Linked DNA regions of Homo sapiens. The protein of the gene in region 1 purifies or fractionates together with the protein of each later gene. This does not show direct contact. Each region holds a gene or a part of one and is shown on either strand. Other genes may lie near its edges.

Evidence for each region.
Region 2: the proteins of ETFRF1 (region 1) and CCZ1 purify together in Homo sapiens (affinity purification with mass spectrometry, with the first as the bait; 2 studies listed by BioGRID). This does not show direct contact.
Region 3: the proteins of ETFRF1 (region 1) and NT5DC2 purify together in Homo sapiens (affinity purification with mass spectrometry; 3 studies listed by BioGRID and IntAct, with this or other methods). This does not show direct contact.

What each region holds. Positions count from the first base shown.
Region 1 is NC_000012.12:25,198,217-25,205,238, reverse strand, and holds the end of ETFRF1 (electron transfer flavoprotein regulatory factor 1), read right to left. Parts: exon of another isoform or gene 1,407-7,022; intron 1,320-1,406; 5' UTR 1,283-1,319; coding exon 1,232-1,282; intron 1,149-1,231; coding exon 927-1,148; 3' UTR 96-926; downstream 1-95. UniProt on the Homo sapiens protein: Acts as a regulator of the electron transfer flavoprotein by promoting the removal of flavin from the ETF holoenzyme (composed of ETFA and ETFB).
Region 2 is NC_000007.14:5,915,711-5,922,732, forward strand, and holds part of CCZ1 (vacuolar fusion protein CCZ1 homolog), read left to right. Parts: intron 1-3,156; coding exon 3,157-3,190; intron 3,191-4,138; coding exon 4,139-4,256; intron 4,257-7,022. UniProt on the Homo sapiens protein: Acts in concert with MON1A, as a guanine exchange factor (GEF) for RAB7, promotes the exchange of GDP to GTP, converting it from an inactive GDP-bound form into an active GTP-bound form.
Region 3 is NC_000003.12:52,530,858-52,538,736, reverse strand, and holds the start of NT5DC2 (5'-nucleotidase domain-containing protein 2), read left to right. Parts: upstream 1-4,879; 5' UTR 4,880-4,999; coding exon 5,000-5,231; intron 5,232-7,879. Other genes in the region: UQCC5 (ubiquinol-cytochrome c reductase complex assembly factor 5), read right to left, coding at 1,831-1,981. UniProt on the Homo sapiens protein: Promotes dephosphorylation of tyrosine 3-monooxygenase TH which decreases TH catalytic activity and leads to reduced synthesis of catecholamines including dopamine, noradrenaline and adrenaline.

The sequences.
Region 1 (7,022 bases):
GTGTATTTATTCATGAAATTTGAACTGTTTGCCCCGAAATGGATATGGAATACTTTATAAGCCATAGACACTATAGTATACCAGTGAATCTTTTATGCAGCTTGTTAGAAGTATCCTTTATTTCTAAAAGGTGCTGTGGATATTATGTAAAGGCGTGTTTGCTTAAACTTAAAACCATATTTAGAAGTAGATGCAAAACAAATCTGCCTTTATGACAAAAAAATAGGATAACATTATTTATTTATTTCCTTTTATCAAAGAAGGTAATTGATACACAACAGGTGACTTGGTTTTAGGCCCAAAGGTAGCAGCAGCAACATTAATAATGGAAATAATTGAATAGTTAGTTATGTATGTTAATGCCAGTCACCAGCAGGCTATTTCAAGGTCAGAAGTAATGACTCCATACATATTATTTATTTCTATAACTACATTTAAATCATTACCAGGAACTGTTTGTTTTGTAGTGAACCTTGAGTATGTGCTGTTAATATACCAAATTGGGTGAAAAAATAAGGGATTCCTTTCAAAAGTTAAGAGAAGTAAGTGTGTAAGAAATTATTTTGCTTATTAAATGTTCGGTAAATGGCATTCTCTTGTCAGTAAAATGGAGAAATAAGCTAAAAATAATTGGCTAAGTCCTATTAAGTTAGAGGATTAAGTGTATTATATTTTCATTCAAAATTGGGTGCTCATTAATTTATGATCGGTAGTATAGCTAAATTGCTATGTTTGTATCAAAATTGAGCATAAAGTTGCTGATACTTTCTCCGTATGAACAGAAGTTGAAACCTATTTAGTTCAGTAGGGCAGCTCAGGGATTTTTTACACAACATGTATATCTTCCCATTTTAAGTTAGAATTATTTTACAACATCTGGTATACATAAACAGCTGGCACTGATAGCTAAATTAAAGTAGTAATGATCAATTAGTTTTGTTGGTATCTGAATAATAGCGTTGTTTCATAGCTCTGTATTTCCTAAGGAAGTACAAAGCTTCTAGCTCTTTCATTACAAATTCGCCCTGTGCAATAAGTTCTTTGATCTTCTCTGGATTCTTCACATCTTTGTTTTTAAGGAAAATGTTCTTCAAACGCTTTTTAAAATAGTCTGCTCCTTTTGGATAGTCTCGTCCAAGATACAGCAGCTTCAAAAAGAAAGATTATATATTTCTAAACAATCCATGTCATATAATAACATTTTTATAAAATTGGCAACATAATTACTTACATTTTTATAAAGTTTTAGTACTTCTCCTCTTAAAGAATTGGCCATTTTCATTTATCATGTAAATTATCCACTTTTATGCATAACATACCTAAAGAAAGGAAAATTTTTTTGCAATTAGCTGCATTGTAGTCTTAAAAAAATAAAAAAAGGTTATACACATTGAGAAAATGGTAACCTTTTTTACATTCAATAAATATTTCTTGATAACTTTTTCGTTCCACGTACTGGGATATAGTTATAAACACTTCCGATAAAATTACCTGCTGTCATAATTGACGTTTTCCTATGGGAGACATAAGCAAAGACAATTGTGATTGTGAGAAGTCACATGAAGGAAATGAGAAAGTGGATTGTCATCACAGATAGGTACGTGTACCTCCTTTTATGCCACAGTGGAATGAGTTAAACTAGATTTAAATTCCAGTTGCATAATGTACAGATTAATTAACCTTGCTGAGCCTGAGTTTTCCTTATCAACAAACAAGAGATTATCTTTACCCTGCTCTCAAGGCAAGGCCAGAGCCACTTGAAGGACATTGAGCAGAAGCCTGATCAAATGCTGATGGGTGCTTATCCAAAGGGAGGCTGAAAACTAGCAGAAACTGGGTGAGTTAAGCAGGTTGGAATAGTAGATGGGCAGTAAGATTGGTGGTGAAGAGGCCAAATGAACAACCTGTAAGAGGGTGTCCCTGAGGAACAGGCAAAATCATGCTTCTTTATGTGTAATGTGTTAACTCTACTTTGTAGAGGAGGCTCCAAACTTAAAGGCATCATGACAGTCTAAACCTAGAAAATAATTCCCACTACCTGTTAGAGTTGAATAGTAAGCTCTTAACATTGCATCCTATCAGGTGGATGCAACTGCAATTTGTTCCATTGTGATTGATAACTTTGATTACCCAATTAATGTATTTGCTAAGATTGTCCATTGTAAAATTATTTCTCCAAGGAACCTAGTCCTTTTAATGGAGAATAGCATTTAGAAACTATAATCTGGATGGAATGCTTTAGAAACCAAGGTCTGGGTGCTAAAAATGCTAATCACCATGGGACTGTCACTGTTCCCAGGTCCTCTAAGTGACAAAGCTGCAAGTGTATATACATACGGATTTAGGTGTTGTATGTGTGTATGACTTTTATATTAATCTCCATATAATCTGCTACCTAACATTCAATTCCAATACTACAGGGTTTATTTTCATTTCCCCTCTTTACATGGGTTTAATACTCTTGCTGAACAGTGAGAAGTCTGGTTCCCACTTGTCCTTAATAAATTTACTTTTTATAATCATCACCCCTTCTCTCACTATGTAATCAAAATCCTCTTGCTGTCACCATTCGGCGCACACACTCTACTCTCTGAGCTCTGCCACCTAATGCCAGAGTGCCACTGCCACCATCCCACATGCATGGTCTTCTCTTCCCCCTTTCCCCCAACCTACCCTTCTTGGGCTCAAGCAACTTACACTGCACCATTTCCTCCCTCCTGGGTAAGGCTCACCTTTTGTTCCCATTCCAAAAACCTGTGCCACCATTTCCTTCACCCTAATAGGATGCCCTCCTCATCCCCTGCTAGGCTGCTGCTGTGCACAAGTCCCTACCCCCAGAGGCCCTCCTCACTGCATTTGGGCTCCAGTATCCCCTGCTGGGCTACTACCTTGCCAGCCTTTCTCTCGCCCCCACCTTCCCCAGATGCCTGCCTTGCTCAGCCCCACGTAATGACTTTTGGACTGAATTACTCTGATAGGCAAGCAGGAAGCAACTTTTTTTTTTTTGAGATGGATTCTTGCTCTGTCCCCAAGCTGGAGTGCAGTGGTGCCATCTCAGCTCACTGCAACCTCCACCTCCCTGGTTCAAGCAATTCCCCTGCCTCAGTCTCCCCAGTAAGCTGGGACTACGTGTGCGCGCCACCACGCCTGGCTAATTTTTTTTTTTTTTTTTTTTGTATTTCAGTAGAGACGGGGTTTCACCATGTTGGCCGGGATGGTCTTGATCTCCTCACCTTGTGATCCACCCACCTTGGCCTCCCAAAGTGCTGGGATTACAGGCGTGAGCCACCGTGCCCGGCCGCAACTTATATTTTTAAAATAGGCTTTTAGATCAGTTTTAAGGGTTATTTTATAGTTAACTAGCAGAAAATGTGGATTAAAATTACAGTACCATACTCAATTAAAAATCATGCGCTACATAATTTAAGTTCTCCTGTTAACTTCTGTTTGGGTTGAACCCCGAAGTACAATAGTGTAGATTCTCATTGTGACCTCACCTGCCCCTTTAGGCATTTTGCAAAATTTACACCTTTTACAATTTGAAAGGCAGGGTGCCAGTGCCTTCATGTATTTCATTTAATCTGAAATTTTTATACGTATTAGACATAGAAACTGCATAAAATATGAATGTACAAATTAAAGTAAAATATACATCTGGGTACCCATCATTCAAGTTATGAAACAAAAGTCTTAGAAGCCCCCATGTGCCCCTCTCCAATTGCTTCTCCTTCCCCATCTCTACCAAGATAGCCTCTAATGACTTCCTGCTTATTCTCTTTAGTTTTCCCAGCACTCATGAACATTGCCCTAAATATTTAATTTTGGCAATTTGAGCAGCAAGCACGAATCTAGCAAGGAAAAGGGCAACAATGCTGCTGTTAATTAAAGCCAAACAGCCCTAGTCTGGCTTTACCTTCTCCAGGCTTTCTGGATCCCTTCTAGAGAAGTTAATTTGCAATGTCATGAGTGAATACTGGGCTCCTCACAACTGAAGCATGTGGAAAGATCAAAGTGTAGAATTGATACCTGATTTCTGGCCAATACATAGCAAAAATGGGAAGGAGGAAGGCTATTTTCTGCTTTAAGCTCACCAACGCCCAACATCAGCTTTCAGGAATAGGTTGAAAAAGAAGGGTAAAAATGAGTGTCCTCAGTTGGTCCAGTCAGCACAGCACAGAAGAGAGCAGGAATTTCATCACCACATGGTCAAGACAAGGCAAATACCGGTAAGAATCTGAGCCAGGCTTGCCTGGGCATAATGTCCTCAGATTAAAAAGATGATACAATGGCAGCAGGGATCTTAGTGATAATAGCCATCAATGTGAGTCATGCTGCTTGATTCTGGACTGACTGCTCTCTACATCAAGAAGCACAACTGTGGTGCTGGAATCCTACTTGACCATGCTCCCAGAAATTCCTCTTGCCTATCCTCTATGTTGATTATCCCATTTTCTACATTCCAAAGTGTTCCATTTCCTGGTTTTATTTTTGTTTCTGTGGAGCACATCCTAACTTCTTGAAAAGGGTACATGGAAGGTAAATGAGACCCTGGATGTCTAAAAATGGCTGGCTCCCTCTATCTGTTTGATAGCTTGTCTGAGTATAGAATTGAAAGCTGGAAATAATTTTCTTTTCAACATTTTGAAGTAGTTGCTCGTCTGTTTGCTTTTACCATTGCTATTAAGTTCAAAGCAGTCCTGGTAAGTGATCCTCTGTATGTGATGTATTTTTTCTCTCTCTCCCCAGAAACTTACAGAATCTTCTCCATGAAGATTTTGAAATGTTAGTGATGTGTTGATAATGGATTTATTTTTATCCATTGTACTGGACACTCAGTTGGCCCTTGCAATCTGGACACTTGTTTCCTTCAATTTGGGAAAAAATTTTAAATGATTTCATTCATGATTTCCTCCCTCCTCCATTTTCTTTTTTCTCCCTTCCTGGAACTTTTATTATTTGGATGTTTGAACTTCTAAACATGTTCTCTTCCTTTTTTCTGTACTATTTTCCATTTGTCTTTTTTTTTTAAGCATGGAGTTTCGCTCTTATCACCCACGCTGGAGAGCAATGGCCTGATCTCAACTCATTGCAACCTCCGCCTCCTGGGTTCAAGTGATTCTCCTGCCTCAGCCTCCCAAGTAGCTGGAATTACAGGTGCCTGCCACTAAGCATGGCTAATTTATGTATTTTTAGTAGAGATGGCTTTTCACCATGTTGGCCAGGCTGGTCTCGAACTCCTGACCTGAGGTGATCCACTCTCCTTGGTTTCCCAAAGTGCTGGGATAACAGGTGTGTGCCTCTGCGCCCAGCCTTTTATTTAGTTGTATGGGGGATTTTCTCATTTTCTTCTTCCAAGTGTTCTACTGAGTTGTTCATTTCTGCTCTTCCTGGACAGTTAATTTTGACCACTCAGATTGCTCTCAGCATAGCTGGAGACTACTATAGAGATGTTAAAAATACTCAAAAATTATAATAGAGTAGCCTGGGAATGGGAGTAGGGGCTGGAGACCAGGAAGGAATCAAAGATGCACAAGGCAACCTTTGTGGATAGTGGATATATTTATTGTCTTGATTGTGGTGATGGCTTCATTGTGTGTGTGTGTGTGTGTGTGTGTGTGTATGTATACATATATGTATATATACAAATCTATATAATTAGTATAGATACTATATAGTATATAGTATGTAGTTTTCCCACCACTTAGCCCTGTTCTTAGACTTTTGCTGGCATTTCTATTACTTGCAAAAATATATTAAAATATATATTGACAAACAGAGGTAGCCAGCCATTTTTAGTATATAGTATACTATGGTATATATATCTACCATATACTACATAGTATGTACTATGTAGTACATATATAGTTATGTACTATATATATTACTATATACTACATAGTACAGTATGTACTATATGTACTATATGTACTATGTAGTACATACTACGTAGTATATAGTAGATATATATAGTATATAGTACATAGTAATTCCTTTTATTTTTGTTTCTATGGAAACAAAAATATGTATACTATATATTATACTATATGTAGTATATATTATAGCACATATATATCTATAAATATGCATATATAGATGTGTATATATATGAACCAAATTTATCGAATTATACTTTGTAAGTGTAATTCAGTGTCAATTCTACTTCAGCAAAACTTAAAAAAATAATAGAAATGCCAGCCAAAGTCTAAGAACAGAGCTAAGAGATGCTGAAATAACACATGGAAGTAGAAATCCATCTAAACCACAAGGCTGCCAATTCGTGGGTAGGATAGGTGACTCTACCTGTCCTCAGTCGATGGCTACACAGAACTTGGGGTATGCCTCTCTGGGGAAGGAACCCTGGAATATACACTTGAATCAATGAAAAAATCTGAAAGACACTTGCCGCCAGCATAGCAGTGAAGCCATGACCTTTTCTTAACTGAAGGTCATACATTTACTGCTTTTCTGGCTCCTCTTTCCTAGGGAAAAAAATACTTCTACATTAATACTTGTTAAATTGTACTTACTACTAGTTAATGAGCTAATTCACATAACAAGCATATTATGTAGGCATTTTTTCTTTCCAAGTTCACTGATTCTTGCTTTCTTGAAATTTTCTGTTGTTTTACTTCAAATTGCTTTTCTGCTTGCTTTTGTCTCTTATCACTTCTGAGCTGTTTTACTTCAAATTGCTTTTCTGCTTGCTTCTGTCTCTATCACTTCTGAGCTTTCTTCCAAAGTCTGGTCATTCTTTTCTGTCTACTCTTATGAATGAAAAGACAAAAAAGCTTTTTAGATCTGTATACGTGGGTGAAGCATATAGACTCTGGGCTTCACTTAGGGTGCTCTGGGTGGGCCTTTACTGGGGAACCTCTGATGTCACTATCTTGGATTGCTCCTCCTGGGCTGGTCAGTTCCTCAGAGTTGAGTCTTCCAGTCTTCTAAGGATAAGAGGAATGCGGGCCCTGCATCCAGCATTATGTATTCCTAAATTCACTTAACTTTGTTTCCAGTGTGCTTCT
Region 2 (7,022 bases), on another chromosome or scaffold:
AGTACTACAGGACTCAGAAAAGGCTTTCTACAGCAGTACCCCCGAGCCAAAGGCCATGTGTTCCAAAACCCCCGGGAGGTGCCTGAAACCGGGGACAGTACCAAACCCTTCACTTGCTGTGTTTTTTCCTGTACATACATGCCTGTGATAATGTTTATAAATTCAGTACAGTAAGCGATTAATAAGGCTGGGCGCAGTGGCTCACACCTGTAATCCCAGCACTTTGGGAGGCCGAGGCAGGCAGATCACTTGAGGCCAGGAACTTGAGACCAGCCTGGCCAGTGTGGTGAAACCCTGCCTCTACTATAGATAGAAAAATTAGCCAGGCATGGTGGCATGCACATGTAATCCAAGTTACTCAGGAGGCTGAGTCAGGAGAATCTCTTGAACTTGGGAGGCGGAGGTTGCAGTGAGCCAAGATCGTGCCACTGCACTCCAGCCTGGACAAGAGTGAGACCCCATCTCAAAACAAGTAATAGTAATCATAATTGGACGATGACACTCTACTGCAATAAAAGTCATGTGAATGCGGTTTGCTTCCCCCTTCCCTCAATATTTTATTATACTGTCCCTCACATAACAGAAACCATGGGAAACAAAACCAGGGGGAAGGAAGAATGGCGGCACTCACAGCTGCGGTTTATTACAGTGGAAGAATACAGGTTAAAATCAGCCCGGGGAAGAGGCGTGTGGGGCAGGGCGCAGGAGCCACCAATGGAAGGACCAGGAGTCCTTCTATTTGCTTTAGGTTGGTTTGGGTTGGTTTGGTTTTTTGGGTTTTTGTTTTGTTTTTTGTTTTTTTTTTTTTTGGTTTTTTGGTTTTTGAGATGGAGTCCCACTCTGGTGTGAGCTTCCGGCTGTCCTCTCCCGTTGGGGTCATGTGGACAGCCCAGTGAGTGTTTCCCCATCGAGGATGTGTGGCTGTCTCTATGGAGTGTTGACATCCAGGGAAGCTCACCTGAGCCTCGAGATCCAGAGATTTGATTGGGGGTTGGCCACAGAGACACAGCTGGCCCCACATGGCCAGCCTTAGTCTCCAGCCCTCCAGAGGTGGAGCGGGTGCTGTGCGGGCTTGGGTGTAAGGGATATTGGCCTGTAGTTTTGTTTTCTTGTGATATCTTTGGGCAATGCTGGCTTGATAAAATGTGTTGGGAAATGTTCCCTCCTATTTTTTTGGAAGACAGTGAAAAATTGGTGTTAATTCCTCTTTACATGTTTCATAGAATTCACAGTCAAGCTCTCTGCACCTGGGCTTTTCTTTGTGGCAAATTTTAAAGTTAACCATTTATGCCCAGTGTTCCATTATTGGAACACTAAGCTTGTGAGAGTTATTTATATCCTGCTGAAGGTCATTGCCAAGGTCTCATTTTTCACAAAAAAGATTTACAACCTCCAGCATAAATGGGTTAATCTCTGTACTTGTTACAGGTTTATTTTGATTTTGTTTCTTCTTGAGTCAGCTTTGGTAGTTTGTGTCTTTCTAGGAATTTGTCAGCTTCAATTAATTTATTTGATTTGTCGGCACGTGGTTTTTCATGGTATTGTAGGTAAAGCCGGATACTCCTTCGTTTTTCCTGTAAAGTCAGTAGTGATGTCTCCTCTTTCATTCCTGGTTTTAGTAATTTGAGTCTTCTCTCTTTGTTCCTTGTTGTATAGTCTAGCTAAAGGTTCTTCATACTTCTGGAATCTTCACAAGAAAAAGGAAAAGTTTTTCAATGTTGGGTCTTTTCAGAGAACAACTTTTGGTTTCATTTATTATCTCTGTGATTTTTCTCTGTTGAGTTTGTTTCTGCTCTCATGCTTTATTATTTCCTTCCATTTGCTTTAGGTTTGTTTGGGTTTTTTTGTTTTTGTTTTTGTTTTTTTTGAGACGGAGTCCTGCTCTGTCACCCAGGCTGGAGTGCAGTGGCACAGTCTCAGCTCACTGCAACCTCTGCCTCCCAGGTTCACATGATTCTCTTGCCGCAGCCTCCTGAGTAGCTGGGATTATAGGCGCACCACCACGCCCGGCTAATTTTTTTGTACTTTTAGTAGAGATGGGGTTTTGCCATGTTAGCCAGGCTGGTCTCAAACTCCTGACCTCAGGTGATCCGCCCACCTCGGCCTCCCAAAGTGCTGGGCTTACAGGTATGAGCCACCACACCCGGCCCCACTTGCTTTAGGTTTAGTTGACTCCTGTTGTCCAGGATCTTAAGACGAAAGGTCAGGTCACTGATTTGAGATCTTTCTTCTCTTGAGACAGGATTTCGCTCTCGGAAGTGGGAAGAGGTACTGGGGCAGGTGGGAATGTGAGTTCAGGAGCGGAGGCTGTGGCTGGTGGAAGGCGGCCAGCGGAGGAAATAGAATGCTATAAACCATAGAGGAGGAGGGGGAAGGCAGACGAGGGGTCACACCTGTCATGACATGAGCAGGAAGTCAGTACGATGCCCAAAGAGGATACGTTGAAGAGTTAGGATAACGCTGTTGTCTAATGACAGTGTAAAGTGGTTGCCGGGGAGGAGGGTCAGAGAACGAAATCTGTGGCTTTCATCATCAGGCCTGGTGTTCTGCTCAGCCTCTCTTAACCATACATTGCTTTGATAACTTTTAAACATTTTTGGTTATCTGTGGTCCTGGTTGTTGTCGGTTGCTAGGTCTAATGTCATAACTGTAATTACTTGCTATAATAAAGTGAGACAGGATGATATCCATTTGCTGTCTTTGTAAACGTGTGTCAATGGAAATCGTCACAGAATAATGGACAGTTTCTGCCAATTCTCTATTCTCTCTGGACTATACACAGAGAGACTAGAACAGTGAACCCCTAAGTCCCCATCACACAAGTGAATAAGATTCTGGTCTTCGTTGCTTCTCCATGTTGTGTTGTCGGGTTTGCAAGAGCATTTTAAGTCATCACGTCAGTCACGAACACTTCCCTGTGCCTCTCTGATGAGGACATCCGTGGTAACCTCCCCACTGGCGCTGTCACACCTGACAAGGTCAACAGCACTCCCCTCGCATCATGGAATGGGCAGTCTGTGTCCAGATGGCTCTAGTTGACCAAAAAGCAGCTTCTTACAGTTGACTTCTCCCCATTGACTTTGAACAGATTGTTATTATACGAAAGTCTCCTTTTTTCCACCATTTCATAACCTCTGGTTTGTTCTGTCTTCCCAGGCCATGAGTGCGGCTGTGTGCTTTATGATCGACGGTGGGTACGCGCCTTTGTCTGATTTCAGCCTAAGCTTTTTGTACTTTGCTGCATCCTATTCTTAAGTGATAAATATGTTTTGGGGGTTTCGGTTGTTTGGGCTTTTTTTGTTGGAGACGGGGTTTCACTCTTGGAGTGCAGTGGCATGATCATAGCTCACTGTAGCCTCGACCTCCTGGGTTCAAGTGATCTTCCCACCTTGGCCTCCTAAGTCGCTGGGACTGCCAGTACACACCGCCGGACCCAGCTAATGTTTTTGTGGTTGTTTGTTTAGACAGGGTCTCACTATGTTGCCCGGGCTAGTGTCAAACTCCTGGGCTCAAGCGATCCACCCATCTTAGCCTCCCAAAGTGCTGGGATTTCGGGCGTGAGCCCCCACACCCAGCCCATTAAATGATAAATGTGTTGTCATAAGCAATATAGAGGCATAGAGAGGAGCCCTGTTCCCCATCTGGGACCCCCCTGTCTCCTTAACTAGCCAGTGCTCATATTTTTTAAGTCCTAGTTTTCCCGCTAGTCAGCAGTAGAGTGTGGGCATCTTTCTGTGTCCCACCGACTGCGAGCTGGAGACAGCAGTGGTACCTCTCTCGGGGGGGTTCTGAGGATCGAATGAGGTCATGTCTGTGAAGCACCTGGCCCATGAGTGCTACGTAATGTTTGTTAAATAAACATACGACCTTCTGAGGTCTTTCTGGGGTAGGCAACCGTTTACCACCCTACAGGGTGTGCCTCGGTCAGCTTTTCACGGTGAGATAGGTCTTCGCCCTTTTTTCATCTGAAATGTAACCGGTTTTCTATCTTCTGTTTCTCTTCTATTTGAGGAGCAGAAGGGGGCCTGAGCATTCATTGTTTGTTTTCCCAGACCAGTGAAGTTTTCGTTTGAATACTGTTGTTCAGCGTCGCACAGTAAAATGAATCTTACTGGTATTTTTTGTCATGACTTGCCAGCCTCTGTCCACCCAACGTTGGATTTTTGCCGAAGACTGGACAGCATCGTTGGGCCCCAGCTCACAGTGCTGGCCTCTGACATCTGTGAACAGTTTAACATCAACAAGAGGATGTCCGGGTTTGTACTTTGCTTTCGGTTCACTTTCAGGCATTGAACGGCTTTTGAAATACACGTAGTTTTCACTTACAAATACGGGTGGTATTAACAGTCCTGTGTTCTCGTGGACTGTAGAGGATGGTGCTACGTGCCATTCAGGCCTCTGTCTGAAAGGGTCCCGGGGACAGTCACCCTGAGTGTTTCTGCCCCACGCTGGCAGCTGGGGCTGGGCCTTCTGGTAAATACCTTCCCTCAGCTCCCCCCGAATGGAACGTCCCATTTCACCAGCCCAGATTGTTACGTTCACTTGGACAGTAGTCATCGGCGTGGTCTTGGTGTGCACAGACTGAAAGCATTTTGCCTCTCGTTGTGTGAAAATGTGTAGGGGAAACTGGCTGGGATGTGGGGCACTGGGCCTGGGTACTCAGTCTGGCAGCCTGAAGTGTCTACACTGAGTGGGAGAGGCGGGATTCACTCCTCCGGCTCTCTAGACACTGAAATGTCCTTGAATTCTTTCTCCCTGGCTTTTTTTTTTTTTTTTTGAGACAAATTCCCACTCTGTCGCCCAGGCTGGAGTGTGCAGTGGCTTGATCTTGGCTCACTGCAGCCTCCGCCTCCCAGGCTCAAGCGATTCTCATGCCTCATCCTCTTGAGTAGCTGGGATTACAGGCGTGCACCACCATGCCCGGCTCCTTTTTGTATTTTTAGTAGAGACGGGGTTTCACCATGTTGGCCAGATTGGTCTTGAACTCCTGACCTCAAGTGATCCACCTGCCTCAGCCTCCCAAAGTGCTGGGATTACAGGTGTGAGCTACCGCACCCGGCCATGCTTATCTTTTCTCAATATAAAATAGTTATTATAAAGTGAAAGTGAGGCGATGGAAAGCACTTTGCGAAGTTGAAGTCCTGCTTTTAAATGGGCTCTCTACACATTTGAGAAGTTACTAAAAGGCTGTGAATTTCTGCATACGCTCATGGTCTTAATGTTCATACGTTGTTTTTTGGGTTTTTTTTTTTTTTTTTTTTAAGACAGAGTCTCAGTTGCCCAGGCTGGAGTGTGCAATGGTCTGTTCTCAGCTCACTGCAACCTCCGCCTCCCAGGTTCAAGCGATTCTCCTGCCTCAGCCTCCTGAGTAGCTGGGTGCCATCATGCCTGGCTAATTTTTGTAGAGACTGGGTTTTACCATGTTGGTCAGACTGGTCTCGAACTCCTGACCTCGTGATCCACCCACTTCGGCCTCCCAAAGTGCTGGGATGACAGGCGTGAGCCACCGCGCCCGGCCCATATGTTATTTCTGCATGGTCTTGTATAACCGTGGGCCTCTAAGAGCGCAGAAGCGAGCAAAGGTGAAAGCACCTCTAGGTTTTGTACAACAGTGTGTGGATTACTGCTGTCAACAGCTTACATCTTTGTTGCTTTTTGTTTTTATTTTTTGAGACAGAGTTTCACTCTTTCACCCAGGCTGGAGTGCAGTGGCATGATCTCAGCTCACTGCAACCTCCAGCCCCTGAGTTCATTCAAGCAATTCTCCTGCCTCAGCCTCCCGAGTAGCTGGGACTCCAGGCGTGTGCCACCACACTCAGCTAATAATTTTTGTATTTTTAGTAGAGACAGGGTTTTGCCATGTTGGCCAGGCTGGTCTTGAACTCCTGACCTCAGGTGATCCACCCACCTCGGCCTTCCAAAGTGCTAGCATTACAGGCATGAGCCACCATGCCCAGCCAACAGCTTATATCTTGACAGTGCTGCTGAATCATTGAATCCTTTGGCCGTGAAAATACCAGGTTTTCCTTTGTGAAGGAGGCAAAAGTGAGTTAAATCGGTTTGGATCATGCAGGTTATCAACTAACAGATGGAAAGTGACAAAGTGTAGTGACCATAGAGAACGTGTCACCTGTTTTGTTTTTTTGTGGGTTTGTTTTTGGAGACAGGGTCTCCTGCTGTCGCCCAGGCTGGAGTGCAGTGGTGCAATCATGGCTCACTGCAGCCTTGACCTCCCAGGCTGTAAGTGATCCTCCTACCTCAGCCTCCCCGGGAGCTAGGACTACAGGTGTGTGCCACCACGCCTGGCTAATTTTTGTATTTTTGGTAGAGGCGGGGTTTCGCCATGTGGCCTAGGCTGATCTCGAACTCCTGACCTCAAGTGATTTGCCTGCCTCAGCCTCCCAAAGTGCTGGGATTATAGGCGTGAGCCACTGCTCCTGGCCTCACAGAGTGTTTTGAGGATAGAAGCTTACACCCGATTTAAGTTCCTTGTCTACCCAGACAACTAAATTTACAACTCTTTCCAAACAGTTTTTCTTGTCATTATACTTTCCTTAACCTTAGGGAACTATGAAAACAAATTCTGGTTTTATAAGAAGTTTCTTTACATGTTCCTGGAAACTCAATCCTCCACGTTCTTTCTTTGCCTGGACGTAGAGTATTTCATGAGTACCCCATTGGTCCGGAGGTCGGATTTCTGGTACCCCCAGCCCTCCAGAACGTGGCTGCTAACCCTGAAGCAAGCAGAGGAGGCCTCTGAGCCCAGGGGCGGGGCTGTGCTCAGGCCCCATCCAGGCCCCAGGGTGGACACTGAGGGTGCAGGGAGGGGAGGGGAGGGGCCCCAGGAGCAGTGAGGCCCAGCTTTTCCCACTAGGTCCCCGAGGAGGTCACAGACTCTGACCTGGGAGGCAGCGTCGTAGCACTGCCTAGTCAGTTTAAGAAATAAAAAGGTACATCCCATTTAAAATGTTCATCAGACTGCAGTGGAAAAGGCGACTGCGTTTTACAGTGATGTCCACTGG
Region 3 (7,879 bases), on another chromosome or scaffold:
GTAATCCCAGCACTTTGGGAGGCCAAGGTGGGCAGATCACCTGAGGTCAGGAGTTCTAGACCAGCCTGACCAACATGGAGACACCCCATGTCTACTAAAAATACAAAATTAGCCGGGCGTGGTGGTGCATGCCTGTAATCCCAGCTACTCCAGAGGCTGAGGCAGGAGAATCACTTGAACTTGGGAGGCAGAGGTTGCGGTGAGCCAAGATCGCACCACTGCACTCCAGCCTGGGCAACAAGAGCGAAACTCAGTCTCAAAAAATAAATAAATTAAATTAAAATGTTGGGATTTGACTTCCATCATAATTTGCTTCTGAATGGTTCACAAATCCCAATTTCTGGCCCAGATTTGCCTCCTGAGCTTCAGCTCTGTATAACCATATCTACCTCGTCACGTCCCAGATGGTGCCCAGGATGGCCCTGCCTGTGTTCGGCACCTTCAGGAAATGCACTACCCCCTGCCCCAGGTGTCCCACCAGAAGCCTCCACTCCTCATCTCCTGAGTCCACTTAATCACCATGCCCTGTCAGTACTACCTCTGGGCTGTCTTTTACTTCCATCCCTTCTTGGTATCCTTTCTGCCCCAACCTAGACCAGGCCACTGTCTCAACTCTGGACAGCCATACAGCGTAACTGTTCCTACCAATCTGTCCACAAGGAGCCATTCTCCACATGTTAAAGCCTCTCCCTAAAATGACTCAATCCTTGGGATCCATTCTTGGTTCTCCAGTCCCTTTGCCACCCTGCCCAGGCACCCTTCTAGCCATCCCCACTTTGTTGATCTGCTTCAATCCCTCAAACACACAGCATACTCTCACACAAGTGCTCCTACCACTGCCATGGAGATGCTTTCAATTCCACACACCTTCCCCTCATCTGACTGACACCTACTCAGTCTTCAGGTCCTACTTTACTTGGTAGCTGCTTCCGGAAGCCTTCCCTGCACCATCTAGTCCAGTTGAGGCGCCCACCCGAGAGTCCTATGTTCCTCCCACTTCCTTCTCACAGCACTGATCACTTTGTATGCTAATTGTCTTTATCATCTTCTTTCCCATTAGAGCTCTTCTGGGGTAAGGGACACCTCTGCCTTGTTCATTATAGCCCCTCAAGAATGCTCATTAAGTATCAATGAATGGATGAACAGAAGGACTAAGGATCTTTAGGAATCACTAATGTAACAATTCTTTAAAATGTGGGTTGGCAAGTCACAAGTGATAGCGTTTCAGGAGAGGGGCAAAGCAGAAAGGGCCGAGGGGTTGGGGAAGTCCTCCTGAAAGGAACTGGCCTGTCCAGAGTTAATGCTCAGTAATGCAGTGCCAGGCGTTACCACTATCTTTACAGTGCTGATCATCTGGACCCAGACCAAAGACCTGGTGCCAATGACTGTCCTGTAAAGGTAGTGGTAATTAGCAAAGCCAGGCAGATCAGCTCCCTCCAGAGTTTGGACAGAAGAATCCAAAGAGAAATGGCTAGTTAGCAGGAGTTTCCCTGACCCCTCATATCCACCCCCTTCTACGATTGTTGTGAGCAAGTCTGTTCCTTAAGCCCAAACGATGTCACCGGCAGGGGTGAAGGGCAGGCATGAGAGGGCTGGAAGAAGCACGTGATCTCGCCTGTAAGTGCAGGGAAGGTCACAAGGCTGGACGCCAATGTGCCCGGCCTACAGGAGAGCCAGGCCGCCCTGACTGCCAAGCGAATGGAACTGCACTCGCCCAGCGCTCTGAGTGGAATGCGCGGTCTGCAATCTGAGAATACTCCCCAGAAAAACGGATCCCTACCGCCTCGTGCCTTCCTGAAAGGAAACAGAGACTGCTACCCCCTCACTTACAGAAGGTCTCCTGGCCCACGCGCACTTTAATCATGATCCACTCCATCGTTCCTCCCAGGACAAAAAAGAAGGGCAGGAACCGGTAGATGCCAAATCGCTGCTTCCCGGGCACCCGCTGCAGAATCCGTCTCACCTGGGCCCTGGTGAACATGCTCGACCGAGGTCGTGGAGAGGGATATGACGGAACTAAGCACTGGATCGCCCGGACGCAGCCGAGACCGCCCCGCCCGTTCTCGCCGTGTACCGCGACCTGGGAGACTAGCGAGCGCCGTCCTCCGCCACTGTCTGGTAGGCGCACGAGTGCCGGAACTGGGCGCCGACCTTCTAAAGCGAGGCGGATCCGCCAATCAGACTGCAGCGGGGGCGTGCAGCTCCGCCAATCAGAGCACGGCAGGGCGCGCGTGCTCCCTGAAGCCGAGCAGGGCCTCGAAGGAGCTGGCGCAGGCGCCTCAGCTCTGGAGGTGGGACGGCCCAAAAGGGAAGGACAGCCCACGTGGCGCCGGCCCGGCCCCGCCCCCTGCCTCCCCAGTGCAGGTCTGAGCTCGCAGTTGGCAGCCGCGCCCCCTACTCTGCCACCGCCATTTTTATTCCTAATACCCAGATAGAAGTGATGACCCTCTCTGATGGACTATGTACAGCACCACATTCCAAAATGCAATTATGCAATGCCTTGCGTTTATTTCGGAGACGTGATTGGTGCCTAGACTTCTAAAGTAACAGAATTTGATATGGAGTGTTGAAAGCTGAACTTTATCAATTATCACAGCAAAAATCTAAGTAAGCGCCCCGTGAGAACCCTAAAATTAATAAAAGCTATCTTGTATGGGGCACTTACAGTTCCACAGGCACTTGTAGGCGCTTTATTCACAATAATCGCAGAAGAGCAGTATAAAGAGCATGCACTCTGTTACCAAACCACATCCCTGCTCTACAGGTGCTCCCTTAGCCCATCTGTGCCTCAATTCCCTAAGCCGTAAAACGGAGGCCTTGTTCTGACGCTGTGATAATTTAGTGCGGTAATAGGAATGATGCACTGAACACAACCCTGGAGCATAGTAACTGATTAATATTAGTTAGAATATTCATTATGATGATAATGATTGGCAGAGCCCTCGCTCTTCACATGTATTCCCAAACATGGTTTTTGTTTGTTTCTTGAGACAGGACCTCGCTCTGTCATCCAGGCTGAAGTGCAGTGGCGCAATCTCGGCTCACTGCAACCCCCTCCTCCCCGGCTCAAGCCATCCTCCCACCACTACAGGCGTGCACCACCACGCCCGGCTAATTTTTTAATTTTTTGTAGAGATGGGGGTCCCACTATATTGGCCAGGCTAGTCTCAAACTCCTGGGCTCAAGAGATCCTCCTGCCTTGGCCTCCCAAAGTGCTGTGATTACAGGCGTGAGCCACCGCGCCGAGTCTGAACGTGTATTGTTTATATGTAGTCTCTTAACTGACAGTTTAAGAGACTATGCCAGGTAGAAGCAGGGCTCTGACTTAAGAGACTTCACTTGTAATTGCGTCTTCTCATGCTGCTGTGCTTGCTGAAGATAACTGAAAGGGGCTGTCACCCCATTACCTAGGACTAAAGTAAAAACTGCAGGAACAGCTTTGAGAAAGGAGACAACTATTAGACAATCTAAGGAAGGTAAATGAAAGCTTAGAACCAATGAGACGATTTGGTGATATGGACACAAAATATACAAAAGCAGACTGGAGAGAGCAAGCAGGGCCCCAGAAAGGGTCATAGGGCCCGCAGTGAGCAGCCTGAGCTGCCGCCTGTACAACCGGCTTTGGAGGGCCAGCCCGGAAGCCTCTTTCTCCTCCGGGTAGACTCCGCCCAAGCATGCACACACACAGGCTTGATGCTCGCTCCCGTTTCTACAGGAGGTTTTGACGGCTGGATGCTGCAGGGCATCCCCTCGCCTGGAGGAGGTTCACTTGTGGCCAGGTTCCCAGCACACCCACTTGCTCACTGGGGCCCTGGGGACACCGCCACACTCGAGCCCATCCTACGGCCTCAATCCTTACCAGTCCCCAGGCCATGGACTGCCACACTGTAGGTCTTCAATCAAGGTTCAGTGGAGTTTCGAATGTACACACACCCTGAAAGACAGCGCGGCCACCTCAGAAAACAACGCGCGCCCAGCTGGCTCCCCTCCGACAGGGCCCACGGCTACTGGGTCGGCCTCCTCCGGACCCTGAGCACAGCCTGGTATGCGTGCGGGCTCGGAATACGGATCTGAGCAGAAGAAATGCGAGTGGAGAGCGGTTCTGCGCAGGAAAGAGGAATTTTGTTGGAAAGCCTGTCGACGTTGCTAGAAAAGACCACAGCATCTCACGAGGGGCGTGCGCCGGGAAACCGGGAGTTGACGGGTCAGTGCGGCCAGTTGCCGAGGTCCGAACCAAGCGGGCGCAGTGACCGTGGCCCACAACCCTGCAGCGCACGGCCCAGTCACCTGGTTAGCGGACGTCGGCTGCCCTGCAGGCCCCTCGGCCTCCCCCAGCGTGGGCCTGGCACCGGGAAGCGCGGGAAGGGCTCTTTATTTGTTAGACCAGTGAGTGGACTGGCCCGGGCTCTGGTCAGTGGGCAGTCAGTCCGAGCCCAGAGACCGGGGACCAGGACCCCGGGAAAGGAGAGCACCAGGACTAGGGGGAGGAGCGGAGGATCTGGGGTCAGAAGCATCCAGAGGCGCAGGGTAGGGCGGGCGGACCCGGGAGCGGAGAGGGCGGCAGAGGACCCGGGGGCCCGGGGGGTACCCGTCGCGCTCCGGCTGTCTCCTCTCGGCGCCTCGGCCGTCCGGAGCCTCTCAGGGACGGCCGCTCTTAGGCCCGCTGACTTCCAGGGCTGGGGCCAGGGAAAGGCGCCGCCATCGCCGGCGTGACGGCCGAAGGGGGGCGCAGAGTCCTCCCGGACCGCGCCGGAGACTGGCTGGGGGAGGGGGCTGGGGAGCCCTCCCCGCCCCGCCCCGCCCCGCCGGGTCCGGGGCCTCCCGCCCCCCGGGCCGAGGGGCGCGCCCATTGGCAGGCCGGGCTCCGCGCGCCGCACCCATTGGCCGGCCGCCGTGAGGAGCACGAGGCCACCGTGGCGGGCGCGCAGTCGGAGGGCGGCGGGCGGCGGGCGGCGGGCTGGCCGAGGGCAGCGCGGGCGGCGGGCGGCGCGCGGTGGGCATGGCGGGTGCGGGGCTGCGGGCGGCCGCTCGGCGCTGGCTGCTGTGCGGAGGCCACGGCGGGCCGCGAGCCGCCTCGTCCTCGCCCTCCTGCCCTGGGTGCGGCCCCCCGGGTCCCGGCGCCCACTGCCCCGGCGTCCCGCGCTCCGCGCCCGCCCAGGCACCCACCAGCGGCGCCGACCTCAGCGCGCACCTATGGGCTCGCTACCAGGACATGCGGAGACTGGTGCACGGTGGGTGAGCCGGGGCGGGACGTGCGCCGGGGTGTCTTCCGCGTGGACTGATGGACGGACCGAGCCCCAGGGTGCCGCTCCTCCGGGGAAACACCCAGTGGGGCTCGCCAGGGCCCCGGAGCGCAAGGGCCGGGCGGCTTTTCGCGAGAAGCTCCGGCCGTTCATCCCGGGGGCCTCTGGGGCGCCCCGACGCCCGGGGGCGGGCGGGAGGTTTGTTCCCCGGCTCGGTCTGCAGGAGCTCGGGGCTCCTCGAGCGGCTGCCGGAGTGCTGGGCCCCCGCCGACTTCCTTCGGGGTCCCGCCTGCCGTGAAGCCGCGGTGGAAACGCCCCCAACCCCTTGTTCTCGGCCAACCCTTAGTTGGGGCGGGAGAGTGCTGTGGACAAAGCCAGCGAGCGGCGCCGGGCGGAACGGGCTCCTAGGGACGGCCGGACCAAAGGGGACACCGGTTGGACTTCCCAGACACACCTCGATGTCGCCCTGGAGGTCCGGCCCCCTCTCAGCCCGGGCAGCGAAGGCTGGGAGAAGCCAAGTCACCCCCGCCCCCTGGAGCCCAGACTAGGGCTGCAAAGGGCACTTAACCTCCCTGTCCCTGCTCTCTCCCTCTGAGAAATGGCGTGAGGAGGCTGAGGCCCCTTCTTGGAGGGGGCCGGCTGGGGCGCACTAGTGAGGCCCCAGAGCTGAGAGTGCTGGACATCTGCCTGCTTGTCTCCGTGGGTCTAGTGGGGCCCTGCTTCTGCAGCAGACAGATATGGTTTGGGTCGTGACCCTATCACTGACCAGTTGGGTGGTCCCCCAGCAAGTCTCACCCTCTCTCAAGCATGAAACGCAGTCCTGGGGCCTCTCTGTCCCAGGGTTGGGTGATGACTGGAACCAGGCCAAGCAGGGCAGGAGAGCTTCCGGAGGAACCCCCAGGGGTGACGTGGCTTTTGTTGTCTGATAAAACAAAGTAGCCCTGTCTGGAAGATTCTAACTGGCTAGACAGGGGTTTTCACTCCGGCTTTGTGGGGTGGCGGAGAATCACTTCTTGACCAGTAAAGGCAGGATGGTAAAGGCCCCTGAGGAATGGTCATTTTGAAGCCTTGGGCATCTGTCCACCCTCGAGGTCCCAGGTTGAGTTTGTGTCTGTGGAGGGGCGGCCCAGCGTTATTTAAGAAGTCTTTGCTCTGGGCCCGGAGAAGACCCTCAGAGTATCCTGAGAAGCCTGCCTTGGAGGTTTCAGGGAGGACTACGGGGATCTACTGGACATTGTCCTCCTGGGCCTGCCTGCATCTTTGGAGCCTCACAGCCCTCTAAGCTCCTCTTGTCATACAAGGAGCAAAGTCATTCCCACCAAGATCCCATGGTGAGCACCAGCAGGAGCCAGCTTCACACCTCTGGGCGCCGAGGTCCGCTTTGGGCTAATGCCCACGGGCTGAGAGCAGTGCAACAGGTCCCTCAGTCCCCCAGCCCCCACCCACCTGGCCTCAGTGTGGTGACATTGGGAGGCTAGGCTGAGAGGCAGAGTGATTAATGCAGGTGGGGTGACTTGAATGGTGATCTCAACCCCGGTGCCTGTTACTGGGTGGTTTGGAGCAAGTGACTTCACCTCCCTGAGCCCCAGTTTCTTCCTCCGGACGATGGGGGAATAAGTGGGACTGCCTCACAGGATGGGAGTGAGGATTGAACAAGACAAGCCTCTAAGGCATCCACAAGTGTCACGGCTGCTAGGGAGCAGTTGGCCCTGGGACCTGGCACCATGGGCAGGTGTGGGAGCTAGGGCTGAGGAGAAAGGAGGGCAATTGCTGGACATGCTGAGTGGGACACACCCTCAGCTGCCCCACCCCCACCCCCCACCCACACCACCTATGGAAGGGAACAGGCTTCTGTCGCCCCAGAGCCAAGGTTCTTCTAGTCTAGAAATCAGGCCAGGCCACCAGGCCCTGTGGCTGTTTCCACATCCTGCTTTGTTCCTGGGAGGACTGTCTGCCCCTGGGCCCCTGGGAACATCCTTAGGGGCAGAGGTGAAGGCCTGGACCTAACCAGGACTCTGTGCCAGCAAGGGGCTGCACTGCCGAGCAGACCCTCCCAGGTCTTCTGCACCAAGAGTCACAGTCACAGTTGGTATCCGGGAACTCAGGGCCATGGGAAGGGCAAGGCCCAGGGTCCTAGTGACACACCAGAACCCTGGGCCTTGAGGGGTGGCTCAGAAGCAGCTCCCTAGAGCGTTGCAGTCAACTGTCTCACTTGCATCCAAGTGAAGACTCCTGTCTACACCCACAGATCTTCGGAGCAGCCGCTCTGTGCTGGCCTGGGGAACCAGCCACACCTGATCCCCCACCCACACCCTGAACTTGGCTCCAAAGGAAAGGGGTGGGAATGGAGCCCTGTGTCCCCAGAGTGCCTCTGAGGCAAGTGCTCTGGGCACGGAGCACATCAGCGAGATGTCTGCCTCTTGAGTGCAGCAGCTGCCAGGCACACTGTGGGGCTTCCCTGGCCCTCTGGCCTGGCAGCTCCTGCTTTGTCATCGGCACTGGGGTTGTGGCTGAGACAGGGATCCCCTGGAGTCTTAGAGCTGGGGCCCCTGCAAGGCAGGGGTACTAGATGTACCCTGTACATCTAGTCCTGCCTGCTCCCTTCTCCCTGCAGCCCCTGCTTCTGGAGGGACACT